Regions from separate parts of the Homo sapiens genome. Here regions 1 and 3 are each linked to region 2. The links come from fine-mapping of genetic effects on gene expression. A gene starts in region 2. Each other region holds a variant in brackets. All regions are shown on one strand. Distances are from middle to middle. Region 1 overlaps CABIN1 (calcineurin binding protein 1). Region 2 holds the start of SUSD2 (sushi domain containing 2). Region 3 overlaps GGT5 (gamma-glutamyltransferase 5).

What was found. PIP is the estimated chance that this variant, and not a neighbour inherited with it, causes the effect.
Region 1: its variant is the best candidate, but not a certain one, in a credible set for the expression of SUSD2 in whole blood (INTERVAL, PIP 0.76).
Region 3: its variant is the best candidate, but not a certain one, in a credible set for the expression of SUSD2 in thyroid (GTEx, PIP 0.69).

Annotation. Positions count from the first base shown.
Region 1 is chr22:24,098,802-24,108,632 of GRCh38, reverse strand. The region is part of intron 26 of CABIN1 (calcineurin binding protein 1); the gene reads right to left. Among named protein-coding and RNA genes, the nearest start is that of SUSD2, 78 kb to the left of the region's middle. The variant C/T (reference allele first, on the strand shown) is at 5,392.
Region 2 is chr22:24,176,229-24,186,059 of GRCh38, reverse strand. SUSD2 (sushi domain containing 2) reads right to left here and starts at 4,573. Exons shown (of 15, transcript NM_019601.4): 1 at 4,465-4,573; 2 at 2,793-3,003; 3 at 2,414-2,565; 4 at 1,757-1,924; 5 at 1,120-1,294; 6 at 765-966; 7 at 489-574; 8 at 131-399; 9 at 1-44. The coding sequence starts at 4,540. CABIN1 (calcineurin binding protein 1) reads right to left here. Exons shown (of 37, transcript NM_012295.4): 35 at 9,785-9,831; 36 at 8,243-8,556; 37 at 7,432-8,007. The coding sequence ends at 7,864. RefSeq lists enhancers at 2,344-2,453, 2,524-2,603.
Region 3 is chr22:24,215,996-24,225,826 of GRCh38, reverse strand. It overlaps GGT5 (gamma-glutamyltransferase 5), which reads left to right. Exons shown (of 12, transcript NM_004121.5): 9 at 175-281; 10 at 416-582; 11 at 721-831; 12 at 5,711-6,167. The coding sequence ends at 5,857. It overlaps LOC124905090 (a long non-coding RNA gene), which reads right to left. Exons shown (of 2, transcript XR_007068023.1): 2 at 9,397-9,831. Among named protein-coding and RNA genes, the nearest start is that of GGT5, 24 kb to the left of the region's middle. The variant G/A (reference allele first, on the strand shown) is at 3,692.

The sequences.
Region 1 (9,831 bases), 77 kb after region 2:
GCTGCCTTTGCCATGTCCACTGCCCAGGAACTGATGGATCATCAGTATCAGCTGGGCTGACAGAACAATGAGAAATGAGGACTTGGGACGTGTATAAGACCCCTGAGTGGAGGAGCACAGACCTGACCAGAACCTCTCTCTCACGCTTGTGAAAGGCTCTTCCCTGACTTACAAAGCCAGAATACAAGGCTCCATGAGCACTGAATGGCAGTTATGAGCAGGCCTGCAGCCCTCACAAAATGTCCCAAACTTGAGTCCCCAGCATGAGGGGATCAAGAAGAGGTGGGGCAGCCCATTTGCTGGCTGTGTGTAAAGGGAGGATTAGCAATGGGGACCCTCTAGAGGCCACGCAGGGTCATTGTAGGAGCTTAAGGGTTGGGCTCCCAGACCCACATTCCCATCCCAGATCTGCCACTTAGGGGTTGGGTGATCTTGGCCAAATGATTTTGCTGCTCTAGGCCCCCACTTCAGGTTTTTTAACACGATTGCCATTGTCTTCCTACCTCTGTCCCTGACACATACATGGGATCCCACAAAGGCGTGGCTAGTGCCCTGCACACAAGTGACAGCCCTGCAGCATTCACTCTGGCCCTGACAGTGAGAACACCGATGGCTTAGACAATGCTCGTGAGGCCTCAGAGTCTCTGAAAGACAGCAGGCCATGCCCCGCAGTTGAAGTCTCCCTGAAAGACAAGCTAGGGCTGGGTCTCCTCAGCCAGCCTGAGACTAGCTGAAGTCACTGCACAGCTCAGCAGCACATCCTGCGGCAAGCTCCAGGAAGCAAGCCTTGCTAGGATGATTTCACCGACTGGCAAGCTGCCCCACGAGCTCACCGGCTCACAGGCTCTTTTGGGCTCTGGGCCTAAAGGAATTGCCAATTTGGTGGAATCCCAGCTGTGATCATTATGAAAACTAAGGATTGGTTTAGGCAAGTAGATATTTACTCTCAAAGTGCTAACACCCTCTTGATGCTGCAATGTGAAGGAACCAGGATCCATCCAGCAGGCAGTGAAGGTGGCCAGACCTCACCAGGAACTGTGTGGGCAAGAAAGGACGGCATGCTGTGCAGGGGCTTCTGCTCCCTGAAGAACGACCACCAATTGAGTGGGGACTCTGCTGAGACTCTTAAAATAACATCCACAGCAGTGGAACAGGGCAAGCACAAGCCAAGGGACCTGGCAGGGACAAAAGGCTGCTGACTACACTTTGCCAGGCCCTTCCTGAGCCTCTCAGACACAGATGTGAGAATCTGGAACTGCCAACCATCTAAAAAACCAGAGAGCAGAGATTGGTACTGGCCCTGGGGGGCATTGTGGTGATTCTAGACAAACCCTTGTTTAAGGGGTAATCAAGGTACCTAAGTGGCCCTGAGGAAGGCTCTGCTAATGGGGCTCACCACAGTCTTGGGTGCCACCTGCAGGTCATGATGCTGGGGTGGGCTGCTGTGGCAGAGCTGGAGAGGCAGGGGCTATGTACACAGAGATGAGATGCCCAACTGGCCTGTGAAGCAAGCAGGTGGGGGAGGTGCTTGCCAAGGTTCCCGCCCACTACCAAGGGGGCAGCACCACAGGAAGGAGTCCAGGGATGTGTTATCTCTTCAAATGAGAGCCACCAAAAGGGACTCAAGGCCCAAGGCCCATTTTCTGCTCCTTTCAGATCTTGTGTGTCTGAAAGGGTTGGCACAGCCTATTTAAAATGACCCTGATTTCAAATACTAAAAGTCAACCCAAGGTTTCATACCAAGTTTCAAGCCAGTCAGACTGAAAGAACACCAAGTTTCAATTCTTTCACGTCAATAGGGCAAAAGGGATGAATGAAAAAGCTCTTAAAGAATGGCTCTATCTACCTGGGCAGACAGTGCCCCAGCCTCCATTCCTCCTCTTCTGGGGAAGCAAACTTTCTCTGGTACAGCTGACTGAAGACCTCAGAGAGGCCACAGACAGACAGAAAGACAGACAGACAGACATGAACAGTGGGGTAAGTTTGCCAGGAACATCGCAGAGCATGTGAAAAGGACCCTCATCCTGCCACCAGCTGGGCTGCTGTGGATGGGACAGCCCAGGGGCTGGGTGAGTCAAGGTAGGGAGGACAATGTGCCACAGTGCTGGGAAAAAGCTCTTGGAGAACAGGACCCCTGCAGTTGGATAAGCTGGCAGGGCAGGCAGCAGGGAGGGTTGTTTGGACTGTGGTGTGTAACCCAGAGCCACCCCCATTCCTGAAGCAGGAAGCCCCTGCTCTGGGAGGCCCCTGAAGAGGGGCAGGAGGAAAAGGAAGGATGCCGCTGACTACTGTCATCTCTCTACTCCCAGCAGGCCCCTCTGCAAGGTCATCTCTCAGGTTACCAGACCTGCAGCCAAGGAAGGGCCAGTGTGCACAGGGAAGGCTTCTGGGAGAAGAGGTCACAGGTCAAAGGCTTCTTCTCTGGGGTAGGACCCCCATCCATCAGCCATGTACCTTTGGGCAAGGACCACTCCCTGAGCCATACTCCACCCGCTTCCCAGACAGCTGAACGCAGCCTAGCACCATAATGCACCACTCTCATGCTGCCCAAGTGAACTGGGGAGTCTTTGAGTATGTGTGGAGAGGGAATTCTGGCCTCAGGAACAGCCTACAGGCCTGGCTCCAGTCCTACCTCCTCCACAGGATCTTTGGGATCCTGTGGCCCTAGGTTCAAATGGGCTGACATGCAACTTTGTGTGCTAATGGCCTGTGCTGAGCCCTCAGAGGACCGGCTGGGTCTGCCTGTGCTCTATAGACAAAAGCTGCCAAGCCTGGTGGCAGAGGCATTTTGTTCTCCTGCCTCGCCTAATAGAGCAAGGCCAGATGGAAGAAGTCAGAGTCAAGCTGTTTTTCTGTGGAGGGGCTTTTGGGTGAGGAGGGGGTTCTGGGCCCCCTGGTTCTGAGGCAGAGCAAGAGACAGATGGAAAGCCTCTTTGATGTAGGAGAGCCAGACTTAGCCTAAACTTCCTATGGGGCTGGGTGGAGAGAGCCTTCCAGGGAAACAGGCACCCTGGATGGAACCTCCAGGGACTGTCCACAGTCCAGGTATCTAGCCTTGAGACTCAGGAGCTGAGAGCTGATTTCTTTAGGGAGCTACTTGGAGGCCAACAGGAAAGAAGAATGGCACTAGCAAGCAGGCTATAGGTTGGCCTTGCTCTTTTTTTCAGAATGTTCTTTTAAAAATCTGCCCACACAAAACCTGCTCATACTAATTAATATTTGTGGCAAGATTATAAATATTTTATTGTTACTGTTAATTACTGGAATGTTTCGTGTCTATGCATCTGGGCCACGCCAGCCTTCCCTCTGAATCCTTAGGGGGATGTGCGTCTGCCAGCCAAGTGCTTATTAAACTGCCTCCCTCTAAGCTCCAGAACCTTCTACTTCCAGGGTGGGATTTGCAGGATCAACTGTAAAGGAATGACAGCTGGCAACGCAGAGGGAAAGAGACCTGGCTCAGTGACAGAAAGGCTGCCTGTCCCCACTCAGTGTGAGAAAAGACTCTGTGTTCTGAGTCCTCCTTGTTCAGGTCTGACTCAGCTCAGATCCCTTGGACAATCCCAGGATTCTCAGGCCAGCCTAAAAGAGCTCTTTAGTTACAAGATGCAACTTTCCAGTGTCTCTTTAAGTGTGTTTCCTCCATTTGCTCCAGCAGTAAGACCAGAAACAGCTCACGGCCATTTGTTCCATCAGCCTGGGGCAGTGAAAGCCTGAGGAAGAAGATGTATGCTTGTGCTACTGCAACAGCTCTGACTAGTGCCCCAGAAAAGACCACAAATGTCCTGCCGACCAGGAAACAACAGGTTTCTAAGAACCGTAAACTTGGGTGGAATTAGTATTTTGAGAAATTTTCTGACTAGATAAAAGCTGCCTCAGTCAATCCTGGCCAACCACAGGAAAAGAACACGTCCACCAGAAGCAAGGCTGGCCCGGGAAATCGGGGTGCCCATTGTCAGGCTGAGAAGACTGGATGGATGCCAAAGAAAAGTGGTACCAGAAACCTGGGGGCCCCTGAGAGAGAGGAAGATACACAGCAGGCAGCAGGTGGGCATGACGGCATTGTGTGAGGGCCAGGCTGCACCACTTGTCCATTCTTTGCCAGTGCTCACAGGTGAGGGCCAACTGAGCACTGCCAGGCACCTCGAAGCCTGGCAGACATATCAGAAGCCTGATATGTGTAGACACCATGGTGCTGCCCTGAAGGGGCCTGATGCTCGGAGGCCTCATCATGCATCTCTCATCCTGCCCTCTGAGCCAGGAAAGGCACTGACCAGGGAGGCCTCGGGAGGCTTTAAACATTTTCCTGACCAAAGGCAGGTGAACAGCCCCTCTTGATACAAATGCCAGAAGAAGCGAAGCAGTTCTGTAAGGTGTGAGGCTGGCATCCCCCAGCCATCTAGTGAGCTTCCCAGGAAGGCTCTTCAAAGGATGATGGGGGGAAAATTGTGCCTTCCTTAGAGCCCAGAGAGAGAGAGATCCTGTGACCACATCACTCTCCCTACTGCCCACAGGAAAGAGCCCAACCCTCAGAGCCCAGCTGCTTTCCCAAGCTCTCTCCCCTCAAAGTCTCTTTTTCATCCACCCCAGTCACCTCAGTATCCAAAAGCTGTAGGACTCTCCAAGCTCCATGTCTAAATGGGCCTGCAGGCCTCTCTAGAGACTCACCTTCTCCAGGAATTCTTCCCAACCCACCAAACCCCAGAACTTGCTCCCGTCTGCCAGCTCATGGCACTCCTCCTTGGCACCAACTACTGTCCCATGATACCATGGGACATCAGATCCAACCTGGGAGCAGGAATCAAGGCACCATCATCTTGACTTTCCCCATGGCACCCTTTTCCATGCCTGGCACACAACAGATGTTCAATAAATGCCGTGACCAGCTAACTCCTAAAGGTTTTCAAAAAGCTAAGAATGAAAGAAGAGAACAAAAGAGGTGAGTGGCTCTTCGCTGACAGCCTCCCCTGTCCCCTGCCCGTCAGGAACAAGCAGAACAAACTGAGCTCCACTTACAGTCTCTCCCACTTTGAGAAGGTCTGTTTAGGAATGGCACTCCAACCAGAAACTGACCTCCCCTTAGCCCTAGGAGGGGAGGTCACTGAGCAGAGGCCAGGGTGGGCCTGCCCTTTAGGACTGACTGGCATTCACAGCTCCCCGTCCTACATAGCCTGGCCCTGGTGGGCTGAAGACACAGGACCCACCTCAGAGCATCAAGGCTACTGTGCACAATTTGCATTTTTACACCTTTGTCCTTGTAAAGATAATTTGGTATGTTAGAGTCTGTTGCCTTTGTTGTTTATTTTAAAGCAAGAAAGAGCAAAGCAATGGAAATATAGGACTGGGCCACCTGCTGGAGGTGCAGGCAGGGGGGCAGTGGAGAAGAGGCCCCCA[C/T]CGCATCTGCCTCTGGCCAGAACTGGGAGGATAGGCCATCAGCAGAAGCCAAGCGCATCAAACACACTCTCCAAATCACAGGGCGAGCAGACATGAAGGTGCTCCTGGTCACAGGGGTAGCAGGGAGCCGGACTGAGAGCTGAGCATGCGGGTCTGCGCTGTTCCCTGAAGCGAGCCGTGACAGGTGCAAGCAGAAAGACAAAGCCTGGAGAACAGAGTGTGGTCAGGGTTAGGGGCAGCACGGGCAATATTGGTGGAGGCAGCATGGGGCGAACAGGCGAAGATGAGCACAGACGGCACACGACACAGACGGTGACAGCATGGAGGTTGAGGATGGATGGCCACAATGGGGGTTTGGCACAGGGCACCCTGGGCTCTCCAGTGAGGCCCACACCCTACAACCTGGGGCTCAAGGTAGCCTGAGACTCCTCAGCGGCTCTGTGCATGCTGTCAGTGGGACTAGGTAGGCATCACCACCCTTGGTGGATACCAGCCTCCAAGGCTCCCACTCTTCTGACCCTGGCTGCTCCCTCTCCCCAACCCCTCAAGAGAAACACCGACACACCCCTCGGATCTTGGCTAAACTTTGCCTCCTCGGAAAGGCCTCTTACCCCACCAACAGGCCCAGGTTTCTCTGGGATGAACAAACCCCACCTCTCTGGTGCTGGCATCAGTTGACCCCCAACCCTCAGCTATGTAACTGACTGATTTGCACCAACCTCCTCTACAGCAGGGACCAGTGCTGTTCTATGCACCTGGCACAGCACTGATGGAACCACCTGGATGGGCATGGCTACAGGTTGGCCAAAGACCATAGAGAGGCTCAGCCCCAGACTTACCACAGCACAAGGCCTCCGAGCTCTGAGGCCTTTTCTGGCTCTGGCATTCTGAAGTGACATGGAGCACGACAGGCAGAGAGCAAGGATTTTAGTCCAAGAAAGGCACTATCAACACATCCCAAAGCAGGGCTGAGCCAGGCCAAGTGACGAACCAAGCCATTCTGTAATGGCTAAGCTCTCTGGGCCCTCTGCTGAAGGACAAGGGAAACACACACAGATTCAGTCTCTGCCAGGCTGGCCAACCACAGGGCCTTCCTAGTGTCAGTCTCACCTCTGGCTAGGGGTGGAGGGAGATTCAGACCCAGTATCTCTTGGCTATACCCTGACTACAGCAGGCAGTTTTGGATGAGTGCCTACCTGCCCTCAGCTCAGGTTCCTCTTGGGGAAACAAGGGCATGACCGAGCCTGCAGGGCAGTTATGAAGATGGAGACATGCTACTACCCTGCAGGCACCTGCCCAGAGCCCAGCACAGAGCAAGCACACAGCATTGAGTGGTAGGGCGTAATTACACACGGGCACACACACACACACACATACATACACGCATACTGTACACAGGGTAGGGGTAGAGGTCTTGTTCAAAGATCTCCTTATGTTGCTTGAATATGTATAAAGAGTAATCACTGGGAACCCCCTGAAGGTCACAATGTGCTCCTCGGGTCACCTCGTTTTCCTGGTCAGGAAGCTTCAACATTAGGGATTTCAGCCCTGTGGGCAAATTCCAAGAGATTGACGGAAGGCAGAAGTTAGGCAGATGGGGAGCACAACCAGCCAGAGCTGCCAGCAGCACAGCAGAGGACAAAGCTTCTCTCTCTGTTGTTCTCTCTCTTGCTCTCTTTCTCAGCTTGGCCAGAGGTCAGCTGTGATGCCCTCCTGGCTGTTCCGTGAAGGGCTGGCTTTGACACCAGGCTGCGGTAGAGTCAGAGTGACCTGAGGGGCTGATTCCAAAGGCTTTTAACCAGAGTTATGCACAGGCTGCAGGATGCTCCCCACCCTAATGCAGGTGACACAAGGTTGCAGGTGAGGGTGGTTCAGAGAACAAATTTGGGTCCTATGAAGCAGCTATTATCAAATGTCAAACAACCCACATGTACCTGGAGCTATTTTTCTAAATCTTTTCTAAATCTTAAACCAAATCAGAATTGATCCTAGCTGATTTCTGGTTTTGAAGCAAAGGCATACCAATGTGGGAAGGCAGCTCCAATGCAAGGTCTCCTAACCATGCCCAAGGAAAGTCCTGACGCCTGGCTCCCTCTCCCACTGCTGGAAAGTTAATTGTTCTGTGGGGGTAGGAAACCAGGATCCAGAAAGCCCCATGCCCAAGCCCACTCAGGAGCTGCTGCTTCAGAGGACACTACCTCCACCTCTTGTGAGGCCATGCCACTAGCTGGAGAGAGGTGGGGTGCAAACTGAGGGGGACTGGCCCCAGAGCCCAGGCTCTTCCCTCTATGCAGTGCTACCTAGGTCTTACCCTAGTTCCACCAATGACTTGGAGAACTCCATCCAGGAGGTGGCTGCAATGTACAAGCACTTTTGTTTAATACCCATAACGAAGACATTACCCCATTCAACAGGTGAGGAAATTGAGAAGTGAAGTCCTTTGTCCAAGGTTGCAGAGCACATATGCAATGGAGCTGGGACTGGAAATCAGATCCTTTGACCAGGGCCTGCTGTGCACTTGCCTCCCTGTCTGACCTCCCCATCTGACCTCCCCGTGACTGCTTCTCCTCAGCTGTACCAGGGCTAGAAGCACCCATCACCCTCCTGGTAGTATAAGGGCTCAGTGGTGGCCTGCAATCAGTGCTGACGCCCCTCTCCTCTCACAGTAGACCCAAGGCTGGTCTCAGGCCAAGAAGCTGAGTGGAAACTAGGAACTACATGTTCTCCTCCCAGGAAGGAGAAGCAGGAACAGAGGTGGGCAGTGTGGCCCCTTGAGGCCACCAGCACATCCCCTGACACCAGCAATCTGCTGCTTCTCCCTGGAACCTGGGCCTTCCCCTAGGAACTAGTATAGCTGCTGAAAGGGCCACTTTAACATTCTAAGATCACAGCTATTTTAGGACCCCAAACATTTTCATGTTGCAGACACTGCTTTCTCTCAGAGGTGAGGCAGCTGAGTTCTGAAAGCATTATGCAGCCAGGCCTGGGCAGAGCACACAGGTGGCCAGTGCAGGGCTGGGACTGGGCAAAGATGGGCCATGGGATCCTGATGGCTTTGTGTCTTTGACAGGAATCACTTTGAAGACATTTTTTTTAAACAAATGTTCAAAACTGTGCAACCACTGAAACCATATTTGAACTTATTTGTATGGCTCCCTCTGCAAACTTCCAGAACAAATAACTAGCATGTTGGCACCCAGGACCTGTCATGCCCAGTTGTCATGCCTGAGTGATCTGCAGTGGCTCACCAACAGCTTCATGCACACATATGTGCCAACATGGGACAGCTGGCATCATGGCCCCCTTTCTGAGGCGCTCCTGCCTCCCTCCTTTCCTGCTTCTAGAGGCATACTCAACCCTAATGGGCTGACATCCAAGCACAGTGGCGCATGTGGCGTGACCTCAGTGGGAGCCTGCAGAGCTGCAGAGGACAGTGCTTGGGTTCCCTAGCCCAGGTGCATGTGAGCACGGCCACATGGCATGTGGACAACCAGGAAAGGCATTCCTCTCCTGAAAACTTTGGCATAGTGCTTCCTCCCAGGAAGCAGCTGGCAAAAACTAATTCCCTGAGAAGGGGTTTGCTGCTAGTATGTTTTCTCAATATTCTCAAGAGTAAAAGTTTGGGAACAGGGTGATTAACTTAACTAAGAAGGGGAGAGAGGATCTTAACAGGGAAAGTCTGCAGAACTGAAGATTGGAGGAGCAGGTGGGTCAGTTCTTCCCATCTCTGCTTAACACTCTGGGGTGGGCAGCGAGGTGTCAGTGCTGAGACTGGGAGTAATGACATGAACCTTCCAGGAGGTAAGAGACACAGCACACACTCAGATCCTCAGCCTCTCTCAACACGCATGCTGTAGATCCAAACCAAACCCAGGAGGGGACACTGCAGGTCTCCTTTCCTTTCTTGAGAATAGCAAATCCTGCCCCCAGAGAAATGGAGCATTGGCCCCCTTGTCATCCTTCTCCAGCACTTCTTTAAACCTGCTCTCAAGCCCTACCCACTTAGTTCAGAAAGTTGGAGGCAGATGCCCATGCTATATCCAGGAACCCGAGCACTGGGCAAGGGCCTCAGCAGGGCACTAGAGCGAAGGTGGTGGCCCCCCCCAGACCTGTACTGGGACTGAACTTCAAGGCTACCATGGTGCCCTAGAGTGCCCATTCTTACTCCAAGGAGCCACTCTATAAAGACTATCTGGCAGGAAGCAGAGCCCTGGGACCAATTCTACCCACCTACTAGCATCCCCATGCCTTGGGGAATGCAGAGCAAGGCCTGTTTCCCCAAGCCCAGATGAGATGAGTGACATAGGAGTGAGGGCCCAGGTGTCTTTCAGCATTGTCACTACCTCCCAGGACTCCACTTTAGTGGTCCTCTTAAATCACCAATTTGGCTTATCCCAGCAAGTACTTTGTCACTAGCTTATCACTATAAAAATGAGAGAA
Region 2 (9,831 bases):
GGTGCCGTCGAAGGTCACAAAGTGTGGGTCTCCGAAGGCGGAGGCTAGGGTGAGAGTGGAGGGTCACGTGGGGGTGCACCCCAGCCCAGCCCGATCTTTCCCAGGGTCTGGGGCACGGGATGGCACCCACCCAGTCTTGGGGGCCGGTAGTTGCGGCAGTCATTGGAGGGCCGCCGTTGCATGTAGCGGGGGCAGTCGGGTGCCCAGAGGCAGCAGTAATAGAAGCTGAGGACATCGTAGAGCCAGTGGGACATGCTGGGCACTCGGGGTGGCGTGCGGAACGGGGGTGCGCCCCAGTCATGGCCGCGGTCGGGAGTGCTGCCGCCGCTGGAGTCAGCTGTCAGGAGCTGCGTCCCGTCCGCTGTGTAGCAGCACTGCTGACCTGAGCCGTACCGGAGGCTGCAGGAGCCAGTGAGTCAGGGCCAGGCCACTGTTGGGAGCCCACCCCTGACCCCAATCCCCATACCGGCCCCAGCCTGGGGGCTCACCTGGCCTGCACAGAACGCACACAGTGCACGGCCCCGGGGTGGTAGGTGCACACGCTGCCCTGCTCCATGTCACAGCCGTAGTCCGTCTGCAGAGCAGCAGGTGGCTGTCACCCAGTGGCCTCGGGTTCTGTCATCCCCTCCCTGAGGCCAACCCTGCAGGGGTCCTGAGACCCCAGCCCCACCCTCCAGGACACCTCTGTCTGCCTCCCCTGGTGCTGTCCTCAGTGGGGAGGCTAACCCCTCATCCCCTCTCCTGGGCCCTGATGGGAGGCTCACGAAGAAGCGGCCGGAGTCAGCCCGGGCCTGGGTCAGGGTGCAGGGGCAGTCCGGCAGCTCCTCCAGGAAGTTGGGCAGCTGATCCTCCAGCTCCTCCCAGGCCTGGCACTGAGTTCGTGCCCAGGCCACAGGGTCCTCTCGGAAGTCATCGCTCAGGTGCCAGGCCAGTGCGTGGTCGTTGGTCCAGAGCGCCTGCACGTCCCTGTGGAGGTGATGATGCTGGAGCTGGGCCAGCCCACACCACCCCATGGTCGCCCCACTCTCCCCACCCCCAGCCTGGGCTGCCCAGGCAAGCATGATGGGCCTCGGGCGGCGAGGCCCTCCAGCCATCACCTGCACATCCATGCCTTCTTACTTCTGCCCTGCGTAATTTTTGCTGTCGATGATCCGAAGTGCACCCACTCGCCATCTCTGGTAGCTGGGAGGAGCAGGTTTTGGGGTGAAAGTGAAAGAGCCGGAGTTGGGGATGTGTGTGGCCAGGGGGTACAGGTACGACCACTTTGCAGTCCACTCCTGTGAGTAGGGCATTCCTGAGGGAGAGGATGCCTGGTTAGCCCTGGGGTTCCTTCGAGGCCTGGCCCCAGGCCTTGCCACCTACAGCAGCCTGACAGATGGGTGGATGGACCGCCAGGCGGTCCCCTTAGGAGGGGCTGTTCTAGCAGGGACCCCGGCTTGGGTGACCATCACCTCCTGCCACACTCCAGGATCCCTGTCCCTGCTGGAAGCTGGGCCCAGGGCCATGCCAGCCGTGCAGGGGTTCCTCATGAGCCTCCTCCCCTGGAGCCAGGCCCCATGAGCTGCCCCCTCCCACCTGCCTGACCCCCCTGACCTGCACTTCCCTCCATCCGAATCCTCAATCTCTGCCTGGAATTCCCTTCCCTCCTCAACCCCACCTGGAAACTCCCTTCCTCCTCCCACACAGCTGGGACCCCCTTTCTCCCCCTCTGGGGGCCCAAAGCTCTGATGCCACCCCAGCCCTCAGCTGGCCTCACCTGTCTCCTCGTAGCCCCACAGTTCGATGGTGATGGTCTGCGTGGGCAGCGACTTGACATGCCAGGTCAGGCTGAGGTTGCCTGAGGTGTTGGCGGTGCCGTAGTATTGCCAACGCGTCTCGTTCACCAACTCGCTCTTCTCCATCATTGACACTTTGTTGGGGTGCACTGGGCAGGGGAGGTGAGGGGTGAGTGAGGGCCTGGGCCCAGGGAAGCAGGGAGGAGGCCCTGAGGCTTCAAGGGCTGTGGGAGCCTCCAGGGCCAATGCATGGCAGCAGCTGGGTGATGGTCTCTCTGGCCCGCACAGCAGAAAAGGACGCTGAGGCCGCAGAGGCAGGGGCCTGCCCTCCCTCCACTGCCCACGCCTCTAGCCTCGACCTGGCTTCTCCCCTGCCCTGGCATGGCGGAGCTCAGTGGATAGGCACTGGCCCACCTCTCTAGGGACCCCTGCAGCTCCCACTCACTCTGGGCTGGGACCGCGGTCTGGATGCCAGGGAGTGGAAAGGAGCTGAAGGAACTCTCGCAGGCGGGCAGGCCTCCCAAGGGACTGGTTCAGCCAGAGAGGCAGGGCACGGACAGGCCAAGTCTCGGTGTGCATAGATTAGCGCTGGGGAAAGTCCCCGTGGGGGCAGGCTGTGGGCAGGGAGGAGGGCTCACCAGCCAGCCAGGTGCCCGCACGAGGGAAGGAGTGGCCGTTGTCCAGTGACACAGTGAAGGGGATGCGGCCGCTCTCATAGAGCAGAGGTGACACACAGTGCACTTGCCCGGAGGAGTCCACATGGCCGAGGGTCTGGATGCTGTCCTTAAACCTGTGGGCGTGGTGGTGGTGGGAGGGGCTGGGTCATTGCAGGCTGAGCCTCTCGATGGTCTGGGCCCCCAACCTCCCTGGGGAACCCAACCAGCCAGCTGTCCCTGTGCCCTCCTGCCTGTCCTGGGTCCGAGGGGCTCCACTCAGCCAGTCAGTGGGTCTGAGCCCTCAGCATGCACAGGGATGGGGGCGTGGGGCCCCAGTGCCCGGCCTCCTGGGCCTCCCAACCTGCAGATCACACTGGCGTCTGTGGGGCTGGACATCTTGAAGTGCCGCACCACAAAGTCCTTGCCGCCCATCATGGATCCTGAGTAGGGCAATATCTCCAGGCAGAAGTCCCGGAAATCCAAGCAGCAGGTGCCAAGGCCAGAGCACGTCGGGTGGCAGGAACATGGCCCGTCCAGGGCGCCACAGCGCATGGAGCAGCTCTCTTGGGCATCTGGAGGAGAGGATGCTGAGGGCCTGGCCCGGCGGGTACTGGACTGGCTGCCCCATGTGCAGGGCCTGTCTCTGTTTCTCCCACAGCCCATTAGACAGCAGCATCCCCAGGAGAACGCTGGCCAGGAACTGCACAGGCCACCAGGTGGACACAGTAGAAAGCCACAGGGCCCGTGGGGATGGGATGAATCTTAGCACAGACCATCTGGCTGTTGCCCTGACTGACGGGCTAGAATGCAGCGAGAAGAGGCAAAAAGCTGCATCCGCTCAGCCCTGCAGGGTCAGGAGAAGCCCCTGGGCATGACTGCCCTTCAGCCACCAAGTCCTCTATCCCACAGGCAGGGGTCCTCAGTGGGCCACGGTAGCTGGAGCCCTCGACCTCTCTTGGCTCCCCAGGGTGTCTGTGGTCAGCACGCCTTCTGGGGGCCCTGAAGCCTGCAGAAGAACCCCTCTTGCTTGCCTGGACTGGGGTGGGGGATATGGCTGCCAAGAGTCTCATTTGAGGCCTGGTAGGGAATGGTGCAGGGTCTGAACGTGACACTTCTCGCTCTCCCAGGGGCTGCAATTGAGACCCCAAAGAGAGCTCCGTGCTCAGGGCAGAAGGCCAGGGCCGCTCCCCTCCTTTCTGGGGAGAGGAGGGACATTTCAAGCAGGGGTCCCAGCAGTGGGGAAAGGGAAGTGGGGGTGCACACCACAAGGGGCTGTGGGCGCCGGGCCCAAAACTTCTCCTATGGGCCATAAGACCGGTGGGCAAGGCCATATTTCCAGGGGCTGGCATGAAGGAAGGGTTGCAGGGAGGGACTGGGGCAGGTGCATGCACCCAGGCTGGAATTGCACTTCCCTGGCCCTTCCCCATCCCCCATCAAAAGAGGCCAGTCGAGGGCCAGGCCTGGGCCTGAGCCACCCCGCTGGCCCCACTTCACCAAGTGCAGTGCCTGGCACTTAAAAGCAACAATAAATATGTACTGGCCAAGGATTTGGTGGCGCACAGGGGTCGGGGGAGGAGGCCGAGAGATGCTTGCAAGTGAGATAAGTGGCAAGAGGGTCGATGGGAAATGGGGTGGGGGACGGGGGGCAGCCTGGGACCAGTGTCCTGGTTCTGGAGTTCGGGGCTTTCCCTAGACTTTCCTGGATTCAGCCCCACCCTGATGAGGACCCACAATCCTGGCTCCCCCTCCGTGATCCCGCCCTGTCAGGGCTGGGGACACAGGCGGAGGCCTCTGCTGGTCTCCCCCGCCTCCCTCCTAGCTACCAGCAGGTTTAGGGTGGGCCCGGCTCAGACCTCCCATCCCCATGGGCTGCCCCTCCACATGGACCCTCAGAATTTCTTCCCATCACCCCTAGCACAGCCACAGATGGCCTGACAGATGGACAGAGGCTGAGCCCAGAGGGATGTCAGCCCAGGCCTGGCTGCAGACAGATGGACAGACAGACGGGGACACAGAAGGGCAGGGAGGCATACCTGCTGTGGGTCCGGGGCCCGGGCCGAGGGCTGTCGCCAGCAGCAGCAGGGCCCAGGGCAGGAGGGCTGGCTTCATGGTGCAGCCTGTGTCTGCAGCCAGCAGTGCAGTGGCTCCGAGGCGAGGCGGCCAGACAAGCTCACTCCCTGCTGGCCTGGCCCCGCCCGCCCTGCACTCTGCGGCACCGCCCCGCCCCGCCCCTCCCCGCCCCTCCCCACCCAGTCCCCTCTCAAAGTCCACAGGTGCCTGCGTGGACCAGCAAGGCCCAAGTTGCCCCGTTAGCACATTCCTGGCCCGCAGGCCTGGATCGGCCCTGGGACCCTGTGGGAGGGTGAGGAGGCCGGAGCCTCCAGCCACAGGACCTTTGGCAGGCGATGAGCCGGATGTCCAGAGGGCGAAGCTCAGACCCTGGGTCCCAGCCCCGCCTTGCATGCAGGGCGAGCCCGGCGGGGCTGAAGCAGAGGATGGGATGCGCAGGGTGAATAAGGCAGGGCTGTTTTAGCTCCAGGGAGGATTCCAGACTCTGTGGCCCTGACATAGACCTCCATCTCTAGCCCTCATCTTCCTGCAGGAAGGAGGTGCACCCAACTCATCCTCAGGGGGAGGCAGGAGCTGTTTGGGTCAGACACAGGCTGAGCCCTGGGGCGGAGGCAGCTCTGCAGGGGTCCCCTCTGGAGGGAGGAAGGAGGAAGGGGAGAGAAGGTACCCAAGCCCAGCGGGGGGCCCGGAAGGGAGACAGGGCCCATCCCCGGGCTCCAGAGATGCCACCACCCTGGGGAGCCTTGGCTGTCCCAGCCACACCTAATCCTGCCGCTAAGAGTTTGCATAATTTAATCAGTATTCACCTCCCTTCTTGAGCAGATGAGGAAACTGAAGCTCAGATGCGGATAGGCAAGGCCGAGCCAGGCCCTTGGTGGCTTCTGGGAGCCCCTGCAGCCAGGGCGGGTGGTAAGGGCTGCGGCCTGGGACTGGTCATTTGGACCCTGACACCTGGGCTGGACATCCAGACAGGCGGGTGGTCCTCTCCCAGCTGCAGCTTCTCAAGGTGTCCAAAAGGGACCCTTGCCACACTTGCAGGGAGTCAGAGGTGGCCCCAGGGCATGAGCTTAGGCCATCCGGTCTGTGATCTGCCCCAGCGCTTGCGGCCAGGCCAGCCCATTGTTCCCCGGCCTGTTCTCTCTCTTGCCTGGGTGGTGCCTGCTGGGAACCACAGGGTGTTGGCAGCCACCCGTGGCTCCAGAGAGGTGGCCCCTACTGAAAGTGTTAGAGGCGTGTGCTGGGGGACTTGGCTCCTGAGTCCCCACACAGAGCTGTTCCAGGGAAGCCACACCCGCATTTGATGTTTTCCCACCTCCCAAAGACATTTGGTGAGAGGCCCCCAAGACCTTCAGCTTCTCAGGGACTGTCTCCAGAGGGGAGAAAGTCCCTTAACCCACAATGGCGCTCAGGGCACCTCTGCAGGTGAGTGTCCTGTAAGTGGACGCTCAGGTGCTGAGCCAGGGAGAGCCTGTCTCCTGGCCCCAGGCTGGCGAGGGCATTCATCCCAGGCCCAGGGCTGAAGTTGCTCCCTACAGCACTGGGTGCAGGGGAGGGTCCGAGGTGTCCGTCCTCCTATAGGTGAGGCTCCAGGGAGGGGTGCTGGGGGATCGGCTGAGACAGTTCCCGGGAACTGGAGGAGGGAGAGCTGCTGCTTCCTGTTTTTGGCCTGGGCACCGTTGCTGCGCGTGTCTGGAGACAATGGAAGTGCGGTAGGGGCTAGGTGTGCAGTCTGGGAAGCTCCATACCCCAGGCCCTGCAGGGAGGGGGCGTCAGCTGAGTAACTGGGGCTGGCTTATCTCAGCCCCCCGAAAGGCGGGTTCAGCCAGACCCATCTGGGGCCACCAAGCCTCTGGTTCCAAAAGGGCGGTGCCCAGCCCTTTACGCCTTTCCTCCTGGGTGGTGGGCATGTCCAGCCCATGAGGGGCACAGGGCAGTGAGGAGGGTCCCCATCTCCATCCTGGACAGAGAGCCTGCTCCATGGGAGGTCCCAGGGCCAGGAGGGCCCCTGCGGTGCTGGGAGGGGAAGAGAGTTGTGAAGGGTGCCAGCTCTAGGGGCTTAATGCTCTGTGGGGCCTGCCTTAAAATCCTTAATCATTTTTGGTCAGACATGGTGGTGGCTCAGGCCTGTAATCCCAGCACTTTGGGAGGCCAAGGTGGGTGGATCACTTGAGGTCAGGAGTTTGAAACCAGCCTGGCCAACATGGTGAAACTCCGTCTATACTAAAAATACAAAAATTAGCTGGGCGTGTTGGCGTGTGCCTGTGATCTCAGCTACTCGGGAGGCTGAGGCAAGAGAATCGCTTGAATCCAGAAGGCGGGGGTTGCAGTGAGCTGAGATCGTGCCACTGCAGATCGTGCCACTGCATTCCAGCCTGGGAGACAGAGTGAGACTCCATATCAAAAAAAAAAAAAAAAAAAAAAAAAAATCCTTAATCCTTTTTGATCAAGGAGCTTCATATTTATGTCTTGCACTGAGCCCAGCTATTCTGTGACTGGCCCCATTAGGGCGACTGTGATGGGAGTTAAGTACCCTCCCTGCCGGCCCCATCCCCCCTTTCCCTCCCTGACAGCCCCCTCCTCCCAGCCTCTCAGCTGCCCCAGCCCTGCCTGCCCTCCCACCGTACAGCCTCCCACCCACTGGCACCCAGGTGCGTTCTGGGGATGCACCTAACTCCCCTTTGAAGCCTGGCTCCAGCTGCACTAGAGGCGTCTGCCTGGCCCAGCCCCGAGTCGGCTCTCTCCTTACCCCACTGGGCACCCCCAGCCGCTGCTTTGGTTGCCTGGCTGGTCCCTGAGATGCTGGAGAAGGAGGGGGGCTAGGCCCTGCCCTATGGACTATGGCAGTAAAGGCCCAGAATCCCTGGGGACAGCAACTCTCCGCCAGAGACTCTGCCAGATTGCCCCCTAGAGGTGAGCAAAGAGGCAAAGACAACTGTTCCATCTTTATTAGAAAAGCAACCAAAAAAAGGGTGAGGGGTGAGCCTGGCCCTAAAGGACCCCTCCACTGTGACACAGGCAGAGCCGGCTCATCCCGGCGTCGAGGGGTGGATATGGCCAGCTGGGTGTGGGCAGATTTACAAAGTCAACACTTCATAGAAAAGGATGCCGCCTGGCGTGCAGATGGCGACCAATCCACCTTCACATGGCTAAGGCGGGCCCCTCCTCCTCTGGGCTCCCATGTGGTGTGGACAGCCTGACCTGGGTACAGGGAGGATGCCATGAGGAGGTGGGCTGGGCAGGCCTGGGGGCTGTGTGGGGAGTGGCATCCATGTGGGCCTCTGGTCCTGCCCAGGGTCCTGCCCAGGGGGCATTCCAGGCCTGGCTGGTCCCCTGGGGCGTGGCGGTGGGGCTGCAGTGGCCCCTCAAATGTCCATGTAGTCGTCGTCCTCGTCTGTCTCGCTCTCCAGCGAGGACTCCTGGCTGGATGTCTCCAGGACCTCCAGGGCTGGCTGGCATAGGCTCTCCTTCCTCACGTTGGCAGCAGACTGGGCAGAAAGGATGGCTGACTGCGGAGAGGGCCGGGCGGGGCACTGGTCAAGGATGGCTGGGCTCTGCCCCAAGCCCCTCTGCCACCTTCACCCCTGCCCCAGGCCCCCCTCCCACCCTCACCCCTGCCCCAGGCCCCTATGCCATCCTCACCCACACCCCAGGCCCTCCTGCCACCCCCACCCCCATCCTAGGCCCCCTTTGTAACCTATGCCTCCCACCCACACATGGCTCCAGCCCAGCCCCTGAGGTCACCTTCAGCTTCTGCTTGGTCTCCTCCGAGATGCTGCCTTTGGGGGAGAGCAGGGTTGGGGTGGGTGGCGTGACGGTGATCTCAGGGGGGAACTTGGTGGCGGCGGAGGGGATGACCAGCTTTGGCATGTTGGGCAGGGGGCGGGACTTAGCCCGGCTGGGCTCAGGCTTGCCTGGGTGACCCTCTGGTGGCTGGGCACTCCCACTGCTGGGGGCCTTGGAGCTGGCAGCTGTTGGGGGAGAGCTCAGGGGCTGAGTCTCACTCGCAGCCTCCTGAGCCTCCCCATCCCTTCTCGGCTCAGGCCTCAGTTTCCCCTCTGGAAGACAAAGGTACCAAGAGCACTTCCTGCCTGCCGCATCACACAGTGAGCACTTTATCTCGCCCCCACCCGCTCCCCCCAGGTCCTGGGCCTTTATGCTGTGTAGTTTGTGCTGGCTGGCAGGCTCCAAGGCTTCTACCCTGGGCAAATACTTGGCTCAGGCCTGCAGGGACCCAACTCTGGCTCTGAGCTGTGGGGTGCTGGGACTGTGAACCTTACCCAGTAACACCATGAACTCAAAGCCCAGGACCTGAGACTCCCTGAGCCTTGCTGGGTTCTGTAAGACCTCCAGGCATCATGCTTGCATGAACTGTCGTATTTCCACAACCATCCTAGGATGCATGTCCTATTGGTGTCTATGCCCCAGGGAGGACACTGAAGCCCAGAGCTGGTCGCTCAGCCAGGCATGGTCACTGAGCTGGCCCCAGGGCATCCACTTTCGCCTCATCCTCCAGTGGGAGCAAGGGGCTGAGTTTGCCCAGAGCCTGAAGGCTGGGCCAGTTGCAGGCCTGGCAGCCTCTAGGGAGCTGCACGAGCTGGGAGGACCCGGCTGGCCTGGCTCGTCTCCACATTCCTCTGCAGCCCCATGGCTTTAAAAGGAATGGGGTTTACACAGAGCCCATGCCTGGCCCCCAGGGGCTGGCGCCAGGTCCTGCCATCCCAAGTGGTCTGTGGGAGGCCCAGGCCAGGAGGAGTCCCCAAGGGGTCTGGCTGGTTGGGGCAGCTGGTGGGAACAGGCCGGACTGAGGCCAGGGCTAGAATCTGACGTGGCTGTCGACGGGGACGCCTGCTTGGCCCAGCCCAACCTGTCCACCCTTCTGCCTGCTGCTGATGTCCCTCAAGTGTCTGTCACCAGGCCCATGCTCCGCCCTGTCCATGCCTACTCCTCTTTCCCCACTCTGGGCTCAGCCTGGGTTCTGCAGTGGGCCCAAGCAGGCCGCCTGCCCTCGCTAGTACCCCTCCGTGATGCCAGGGGTGGAATAAGCCTCTGGGGTCCCTCTCTACCCAGCCCCTGACACAATGGGCCACGCATTAAACTCTTCAGCCTGGGCCTCTCCCTTGGCTCCCCTGTCCAGCCTGCACTACCCCCATTTCCTCCCCATCTCATTCCATGGGGCATCCCCAGGCCCTGCCCTTCAAGGCCAGGCCGGGAAACCCACCCTGGCTGCCAGCTGTGAGGCAGCCTCCTGGGGGCTGGTGCTGGGCTGCTCCCAACTCGCCTTACCCTGGCTGCAGGTGGGCTCAGCGCCTGTGCCCAGGGCAGCCTCTGCC
Region 3 (9,831 bases), 40 kb before region 2:
GGCACAGGTGGGTCTTTGGGGACCCCTCCTGGGTGGTGCCAGGGAGAGAATAGCGGCTTCAGCATGCTTCGGGGCAGCTGTAAAACGAGGGGGTCCTGCAAAGCGTGCAGGGTAAGTGGTGTCTGGTGGGAGCCCCGGGTCCTAGCCCAGGCTCTTCTGCCTCCACGGCTGCAGCTTTGGAGCGATGGTGTATTCACCACGGACAGGCATCATCCTCAACAACGAGCTCCTGGACTTATGCGAGCGATGCCCCCGGGGTTCCGGCACCACCCCCTCACCTGGTGAGAACAAAGCTTCCCACCCGGGGTCCACAAGGGCCCCCCACCAGGGGAGAGGAGGGAGGGGGCTGGGCTGGGGTTGCATGCTAACCCCTGGATGGGTCACTGCACTTGCCAAGACGCTGTTTGCTCAGCAGTGAGTGGAGACAGGGTGGGTGGAGCTCCCGGAAGGTGCTGGCCCCCAGTTCCAGGCGAGCGTTCCCCATCCTCCATGGTGCCCTCCATCTTGATCAACAAAGCCCAGGGGTCGAAGCTAGTGATTGGCGGGGCTGGCGGGGAGCTCATCATCTCTGCTGTGGCCCAGGTGAGTCTGGGGCTCCTGGCTCGAGTGTCTCCTCTCTGGGCAGCATACTGTCTGACTGTCTCTGGAGTGGGGATGTGAGGGCTGATGTAGGGTAGCAGGGTGCCCCCTTTCTCCCTGAAACCCTCATCTCTCCCCCAGGCCATCATGAGCAAGCTGTGGCTTGGCTTTGACCTGAGAGCGGCCATTGCAGCCCCCATCCTGCATGTCAACAGCAAGGGCTGTGTGGAGTACGAGCCCAACTTCAGCCAGGTGAGGCTGAGGTCCGAGCTGGATGCCTAGGGCAGAGCCCACTCCCCAAATCCGTGCTGCTCAAAGCCACCTGGGAGGAACTCAGTCACTGAGATTCTTAGGCCAGGTACACTTCAACTTTGGGGGCCATAGGAGTTGGGGACCTTGATGGGTGAGGCTGTCAGTGGCCTCCAGGCCAGTTCTGTGGCCTCCAAGACAGAGAGCAGGGTATTGTCTATGCTGCTCCCAGGCTGAGGATCTCAGCACCTTGGTCTCTGGTCTGTGGTTGATGCCATTTTTCAGAAGTGAGTTTTCCTGGCTGGGGCCTCTCAGACTCTCCCTCATGGTGACTTTTTCCTTGTGTGATTTGTAACTAATATTTGCAACTTTATTTGTGAAAGAGGTTGTTTTTCCTGTGACAGTCTGTAAAGTGATTTTCTTCTGGGGCACTAGGGCATTGGTGGTAATTTTTACTATATATATAATTTTTTTTTTTTTTGAGACAGCATCTCACTCTGTTGCCCAGGCTGGAGTGCAGTGTTGCGATCACAGCTCACTACAGCCTTGACATCCTGGGCTCAAGTGATCCTTCCTCCTCAGGCTCCCAAGGAACTAGGACTACAGGTGTGTGCCACCACACCTGGATAGTTTTTATTTTTTTGTTTTTCGTAGAAACAGGGTCTCTCACCATGTTGCCTAGGCTGGTCTTGAACTCCTGAGCTCAAGCAATCTTCCCGCCTTGGCCTCCCAAAATGCTGGGATTATAGGCGTGAGCCACCATGCCCAGCCTACAAACATTTTTTTTGATTCCCCACAGAAGCCCATGGTGCAGCTCCAGGGGCTGAATTCTTCTGGCTGACTCCCCCTCTATCCTTAGACAGAGACTCAGCTTCCTTGGAGCATCTTTGGGTTGATGGATGCCCTTTGTTAGGACCTATTTAAAAGATTGATAGTGGCCGGGCATGGTGGCTCATGCCTGTAATCCCAGCACTTTGGGAGGCCGAGGCGGGTGGATCACCTGAGGTCAGGACTTCCAGGCCAGCCTGGCCAACATGGTAAAACCCTGCCTCAACTAAAAATACAAAAATTAGCCAGGCGTGGTGGCACACACCTGTAATCCCAGCTACTCGGGAGGCTGAAGCAGGAGAAACACTTGAACCCAGGAGGTAGAGGTTGCAGTGAGCCAAGATCGTGACATTGCACTCCAGCCTGGGTGACAAGAACAAAACTCCATCTCAAAAAAAAAAAAAAAAAAAAAAAAAGATTGATAGCAGCTGAGGTTCCAGATCGTCAAAGCTGCCTCTCCTGTTATGAGACTTCTTCGGTCTCAAGTCCACCTTCCAAAGCCCTTAGAACCTGAGAACCATGGCCTTAGTCCAGGAACAGAGTGTAGTCCCAAGAGCCTTAGTTTTCAGACCTTGAGACTAAGGACCTCAGCCTGTTAGGCTCAAACTCTTGGAGTTTGCAGGCCTCCCTCCGCATGTAGGGTCCTTCGCATGACAGGAAGACCCTCTCAGGGCTCTCGGGTTCCAGGGATCTTAGATATGGAGGATTTCAAGATCCAGGGCACATCCTTTGGAGCCCTCCTCCCTTGACTCTTTTTTTATTTTTATTTTTTTAGACAGTCTCACTCTGTCACTCAGGCTGGAGTGCAGTGGCATGATCTTGCCTCACCACAACCTCCGCTTCCCAGGTTCAAGCAATTCTCCTGCCTCAGCCTCTGAGTAGCTGGGACTACACATGTGCGCCACCACACCTGGCTAATTTTTGTATTTTTAGTAAAGATGGGGTTTCCCCATGTTGGCCAGGCTGGTCTTGAGCTCCCAATCTCAAGTGATCTGTCCACCTTGGCCTCCCAAAGTGCTGGGCTTATAGGCATGAGCCACTGTGCCTGGCCCTCCCTTGACTCTTTTTTTTTCTTTTTTTTGAGACGGAGTCTCGCTCTGTTGCCCAGGCTGGCGTGCAGTGGCACGATCTTGGCTCACTGCAAGCTCTGCCTCCCGAGTTCACGCCATTCCCCTGCCTCATCCTCCCGCCTCATCCTCCCAAGTAGCTGGGACTACAGGCACCCACCACCACGCTCGGCTAATTTTTTGTATTTTTAGTAGAGACAGGGTTTCACCGTGTTAGCCAGGATGGTCTCGATCTCCTGACCTTGTGATCCGCCCGCCTTGGCCTCCCAAAGTGCTGGGATTATAGGCGTGAGCCACCGCGCCCGGCCCCTCCCTTGACTCTTGACTGAAGGACCTTTGTCTTTGTGAACATCAATTCTCAGGACCTTTCACCCTGGGGACGTGAAATGCTGAGAATTTGGGAGATGACAGTCTGGGGACTGGGATTAATGGAATCCAGTGACCCACAAACCTAAGGTTCTCAGCTCCCTTGGGGAGTTGGAATGTCAGCTATTCAGGTCTAGGGCTTTCCATGGAGTAAATCCTAAACTCTGGGTTGGAGACTTTAAGCCTCCAAGGACCTTCACAGCTAAGGCCCAGGGACTAGGGCGAGGAGAGTCTTTGATCCTCAGAGTCTTGGAGTTTGGCCAGTGGACTCTGAGGAATGGAGTCTCTGAGCACTGAAGGTCCAACTTTGGCTTCAGCAGTAAAGGATCTTGGCCTTCAAGTCTAAGGACAGTGGGCAATTAGTAGGTCAGGCATGGGGAACTCATAGCCAAACGTGCAGGGCTCCAAAGACCTCATTTGCCCTGTCAGCAGCTCAGGCCATGTGGCATCACCCGATGCATCTAGATGTCTCCGGAATCTCAGGCCCTGCAGGGTGAGGTTCTCGGGCCATTAGTTTTTTTTGTTTTGTTTTGTTTTGTTTTTTTGGCTTGTTGTTGTTGAGACAAAGTTTCACTCTGTCACCCAGGCTGGAGTGCAGTGGC[G/A]CGATCTCAGCTTATTGCAACCTCCACCTCCTGGGTTCAAGCAATTCTCATGTCTCAGCCTCCCAAGTAGCTGGGATTACAAGTGTGTGCCACCAAGCCTGGCTAATTTTTGTATTTTTAGCAGAAACAGCGTTTCTCCATGTTGGCCAGGCTGGTCTCAAACTCCTGACCTCAGGTGATCTGCCCACCTTGGCCTCCCAAAGTGCTGGGATTACAGGCATGACCACCGCGCCTGGCTAGGGAGCAGTGTTTTTAAGGACAACTTGGCGGGTTGGGGGAAGCCAATGAGCCAGGAGTGCTGATAGGTCAGGGATGAAATCATAGGGAGTTGGCTGCGCGCGGTGGCTCCCGCCTACAATCCCAGCACTTTGGGAGGCTGAGGTGGGTGGTTCACCTGAGGTCAGGAGACCAGCCTGGCCAACATGGCGAAAACCTGTCTCTACTAAAATTACAAAAATTAGCTGGGCAAAGTGGCAGGCATCTGTAATCCCAGCTACTGGGGAGGCTGAGGCAAGAGAATCACTTGAACCTGGGAGGGGAAGTTGCAGTGAGCCAAGGTCGTGCCATTGCACGCCAGCATGGGTGACAGAGCGGGACTCCATCTCAGAAACAGACACACACAAAAAACCCCTGGAAATCATAGAATCATAGGGAGTTGAAGCTTTCTTCTTGAGCTGAGTCCGTTCCTGGGTGGGGGCCACAAGGTCAGATGAGCCAGTTAATCGATCTGGATGGTGCCAGCTGATCCATCAAGTGCAGGGTCTGCAAAATTTCTCAAGCACTGATCTTAAGAGCAGTTTAGGGAGGGTCAGAATCTTTAGCCTTCAGCTGCGTGACTCCTAAACCATAATTTCTAATCTTGTGGCTAATGTGAGTCCTACGAAGGCAGTCTGGTGCCCAGGCAAGAAGGAAGTCTGCTTTGGGAAAGGGCTGTTACCGTCTTTGTTTTAAACTATAAACTAAGTTTCTCTCAAAGTTAGTTCAGCCTACACCCAGGAATGAGCAAGGACAACTGGGAGGTTAGAAGCAAGATGGAGTCGATTAAGTTAGATCTCTTTCCCTGTCTCAGTCATAATTTTGCAAAGGCGGTTTCAGTCTTGCTGTTTTGCCCAGGCTGGAGTGCAGTGTCATGATCAAAGCTCACTGCAGCCTCAAACTCCTAGCCTCAAGGGATCCTCCTGCTTCAGCCTCCTGAGTAGCTGGGACTATAAGCACAGGGCCACCACATCCGACTAATTTTTTCTTTTTTCTTTTCTTTTATTTTTTAATAAAGACGTGATCTTGCTACATTGCCCAGGCTGGTCTTGAACTCCTGAGCTCAAAAGATCCTCCTGCGCCGGCCTCCCAAAGTGCTGGGATTACAGGTGTGAGCCACCACGCCCAGCCCAATTTTTGATTTTCTTTTAGAGACGGTGTCTTGCTTTGTTGCCCTGGCTGTTCTCAAACTCCTGGCCTCAAGTGATCCTGCCACCTTGGCTCCCAAGTGGCTAAGACTGTAGGTATGTGCCACCACGCCTGGCTTTTTTTTATTTCTTATTTTTTATTTTTTAGAAACAGGATCTTGCTGCATTGCCCAGGCTGGTCTCAAACTCCTGGCCTCAAGTGATCCTCCTTCCTCAGCCTCCCAAATTGCTGGCATTACAGGTGTGAACCACTGTGTCTGGCCTCAGTGTCTAAATCTTGAGAAGCCACATCCTCCATCGAAGGCCCCCTGAACTCAGATTTGCACCTCAAGGCCCTGGTGTCCTTGGATCCAGAACAGACATGAACTTGCATTTGGAGGTCTTCGGGCCTGGGTGGTGTCCTTCGTACATAGTCCCTGGAGGCTGAGCTTGTCCTCTATGGGCCTTTGGATCTCTTCCATGCTCCCATCTGGTCCTCCCCTCTTCCTGTGTCTTCAGGCCCTCTTCCTCTCCGTCTTGCCTTTTGATCATTTTTCTCATTTCTTGCAGAGGCCTCTCCCTCCTGGAGATGGGCTGAGCTGCCCTCCCCTGTGAACCTGCTTTCTCTCCTCTCCAGGAGGTGCAGAGGGGACTCCAAGACCGTGGCCAGAACCAGACCCAGAGGCCCTTCTTCCTGAACGTGGTCCAGGCTGTGTCCCAGGAGGGGGCCTGTGTGTACGCCGTCTCGGACCTGAGGAAGAGTGGGGAGGCCGCAGGCTACTAAGACACTGCTCTGCCCAGAGCTGAAGTCTGGCCCCACCATGAGTCCTGTGTCCAGGCCGGACATGGCTGGGGGACCAACTACTCTGGCAGGATCTGGACCCCTGGCAGGGGAGTCCAGCTGAGAGTGGAAGAGGTGGCGGGGACCAGCTGGGCAGATGAGAGGCTGAGCCTCATCCCTAACCCCCTTTCCCAGAGCCCCTGGTGGTCCTGAACCGGCCCCTCTATCCCTCCGCAGGCCTCTTGCCTGGGGCCACTCTCCCACCCTCTCGATCTGTATATCCTCCAGTCCAAGATTAAAGAGGCGGACTGTGGCCTGATTCCATGGTTCTAAGTGGGGAGGGGACCCTCGGACAGTGCACAGAGGGGTGCATGCACCAGGCTCCTATGGCTCTCCACATTCCACCACCATGGAGGTGGGGAAACTGATGCTCGTGGACCAGCCGAACCTCAGCCAGGCCACCCCTGGACAGAGACAAGCACCACCTCTGCCTCCCAACACCTCACCACTCTGGTGGCCAGGACTCAGCAGCGTGACTGGCCCCAGACCTGAGAGCTGGTTAACTGAAAAATCACACAATTCACAAATTTGGAAAAGAGACTTTTTTCTTTCTTCTTTCCTTTCATTTTTTCTTTCTTTCTTTTTTCTTTGAGATGGGGTCTTGCTCTGTCATTCAGGCTGGAGTGCAGTGGTGCAATCACGGCTCACTGCACCCTCAACCTCCTGGGCTCAAGCCATCCTCCTGCCTCAGCCTCCCAAGTAGCTGGGACTACGGGTGTGCAACACCACACCTGGCCAATTTTTAAAATTTTTTTTGTAGAGACAGGGTCTCGCTATGTTGCCCAGGCTGGTCTTGAACTCCTGGTCTCAAGCCATCCTCCCTCCTCGGCCTTCCAAAGTGCTGGGATTAAGGTGTGAGCCACTATGCCCGACAAGACTTTCTTTTTTTTTTTTCCTTCAACTTGTGTTTTGAGTTCAGGGGCCCATACGTAGGATGTGCAAGTTTGTTACATAGATAAACATGTGCCTTGGTGGTTTGTTGCAGAGATCAACCCATCACCTAGGTATTAAGCTCAGCATCCATTAGCTATTCTTCCTGAAGCTCTCCCCCATCCCCCAACTTACTTTCTTTTTTTTTTTTTTTCTGTGAAACAAAGTCTCACTCTGTTGCCCAAGCTGGAGTGCAGTGGCAAAATCTCAGCTCACTGCAACTTCTGCCTCCCAGCTTCAAGCGATTCTCCTGCCTCAGCCTCCTGAGTAGCTGGGATTACAGGTGCGTGCCACCACACTCGGCTCATTTTGTATTTTTTGTGGAGATGGGGTTTCACCATGTAGCCAGGTTCATCTTGAAATCCTGACTTCAAGTGATCCGCCTGCCTTGTCCTCCCAAAGTGCTGGGATTACAGGTGTGAGCCACAGCGGCAACTTTATTTTTCATAAAGGGTTACAGACTGCAGGGTGGCCATCCGCCACTTTCAAAAGCATAGCCTCTGGCAGAGACCAGAGACAGGCACTTCTTTTTTTTTTCGAGATGGAGTCTCGCTCTCTTGCCCAGGCTGGAGTGCAGTGGCACGATCTCGGCTCACTGCAAGCTCCACCTCCCAGGTTCACGCCATTCTCCTGCCTCAGCCTCCCGAGTAGCTGGGACTGCAGGCGCCCGCCACCACGCCCGGCTAATTTTTTTTGTATTTTTAGTAGAGACGGGGTTTCACTGTGTTAGGCAGGATGGTCTCGATCTCCTGATCTCGTGATCCGGAGATAGGCACTTCTAAGGAGGAGAGGTTGGGGCAGGAGCTGTATGCTGAAGGGGTTGGCTAAACATACATATTCAACATGTTACAGGGAGAGCTATGAATATTCATGAAGGCAGTCTTGACACATGTGTATTGAACGAACATGCATGTAACATAGGACTCATGTTTGCTGTAGGATGAAGACGGTGGAGACTTAACATTAAAATGTATTACAAGGTCAGGCACGGTAGCTCACGCCTATAATCCTAGCACTTTGTGGAGCCGAGGCGGGTGGATCACATGAGGTCAGGAGTTCAAGAGCAGCCTGGCCAACATGGTGAAACCCCAACTCTACTAAAAATATAAAAATTAGCCGGGCACAGTGGCGGGCGCCTGTAATCCCAGCTACTCAGGAGGCCAAGGCAGAAGAATTGCTTGAACTCAGGAGGCGGAGGTTGCAGTGAGCCAAGATGGTGCCACTGGACTCCAGCCTGGGCAACAGAGTGAGACTCCATCTCAATAAAATAAATAAAATAAAATAAAATGTATTACAATTAGGCCCCATCTGTCAAAACATCTTTTCAGGGCCTGAAGGCCTGCAAGTGAGCAACTTCTGAAAACCAGCCAGAGCCAGTTCATGGTCAATGGTCTCTTATCAGGAGAAAGTTACTGAAATCAGTCTCTTGTCCAGTCGGAGCTGTAGTTATGCCTGGAAAAACAGGGGGTCAATAAGTTGGCATCCGTGAGCTGGATGAGCTGCAAAGTGTATTAATGTTGCTTCAGGCCGGTGCTTGTTGCTGCTGGAGGAAAAGGAAAGCCTCATTGCTGTTAGAACATAGTTTATTCTTTAAGTGCAGGGTCCATGAATTAACCCCTGCCTGGCTTGGCCTTGGGTCCTCTTTATAATTTGGTATCTTGTTGCCACAGAGTCTGTTCTGTCATTTTTTTTGAGACAGGGTCTGGCTCTGTCACCCAGGCTGGAATGCAGTGGCATGATCTTGGCTCACTGCAGCCTTCACCTCCCTGGCTTAAGCCATCTTCTCAACTCAGCCTCTCAGGTAGCTGGGACTACAGGCACAAACCACCATGCACGCTGCCGTGCTCAGCTAATTTTTTTTTTTTTGAGACAGGGTCTCACTTTATCACCCAGGCTGGTGTGGAGTGGTGCAGTCTCAGCCCACTGCAGCCTCGACCTCCTGGGCTCAAGCAATCCTCCCACCTCAGGCCCCCAAGTAGCTGGGAGTACAGGTGTGTGTCACCACATCCGGCTGATTTTTTGCTTTTTTTGTAAAGATGGGGTTTCACCATGTTGCCCAGGCTGGTCTCAAACTCCTGGCTTCAAGCAATCTTCCTGCTTCGGCCTCCCAAAGTGCTGGGATTACAGGTGTGAGTCACTGCGCTTGGTCCTCATCCATGTTTCGAATGAAATGATTCTTTGTTGTGGGGGGCTGTCCCCACACTGTAGGATGTTGAGCAGCATCCCGTGCCTCAGCCTGTGTGATGCAGTAGCACTCCCCACCGCACACACCCACTCATGACAACCAAAACTGTCTCAAGACAGTGCCACATCCCCCTGGTTGAGAATGGCCGCTCTAAACCAACAGGCCCCTAACTTCCATAAATAGCTTTGCCAGCTGCAGGGTGGGTACGTGGTGCTCTCTGGGGATCTCACTAGAGGGATCTGGGACTCCTGCGCCTCACTGGTTCCTAGGAACATCGGCTGTTCCTCCATCACCCCAAATGTGCCACAGAGGTTGTTTTAGTCTGCCTGGGCTGCCATAACAAAAATACTGGAAAGTGGGTGGCTTATAGCATTTTCCAGAAATTTATTGCTCACAGCTCTGGAGGCTGGGAAGTCCAAGATCAAGGTACTGGCAGATTTGATGTCCTGTGAGGGCCCATGTCCTCATACATGGCACCTTCTAACTGACATAGTGGAAGAAGCTAGCTAGCTCTCTGGGGTCTCTTTTATTTAATTACTTTAGAGACAGGGTCTCACTCTGTCACCAAGGCTGGAGTACAATGGCGTGATCATAGCTCACTCCTGTACCCAAGAGATCTTCCTGCCTCAGCCTCCTCAGTAGCTGGGACTGTAGGTGCAGCCCACTATGCCTGGCTTCTGGGGTCTCTTTTATAGGGCACTAATCCCATTCATGAGGGCTCTACCCTCATGACCTAACCACATCCCAAAGGCCCCACCTGCTAACGCTATCACATTGGTGATTAGCTTTCAACACGTGAATT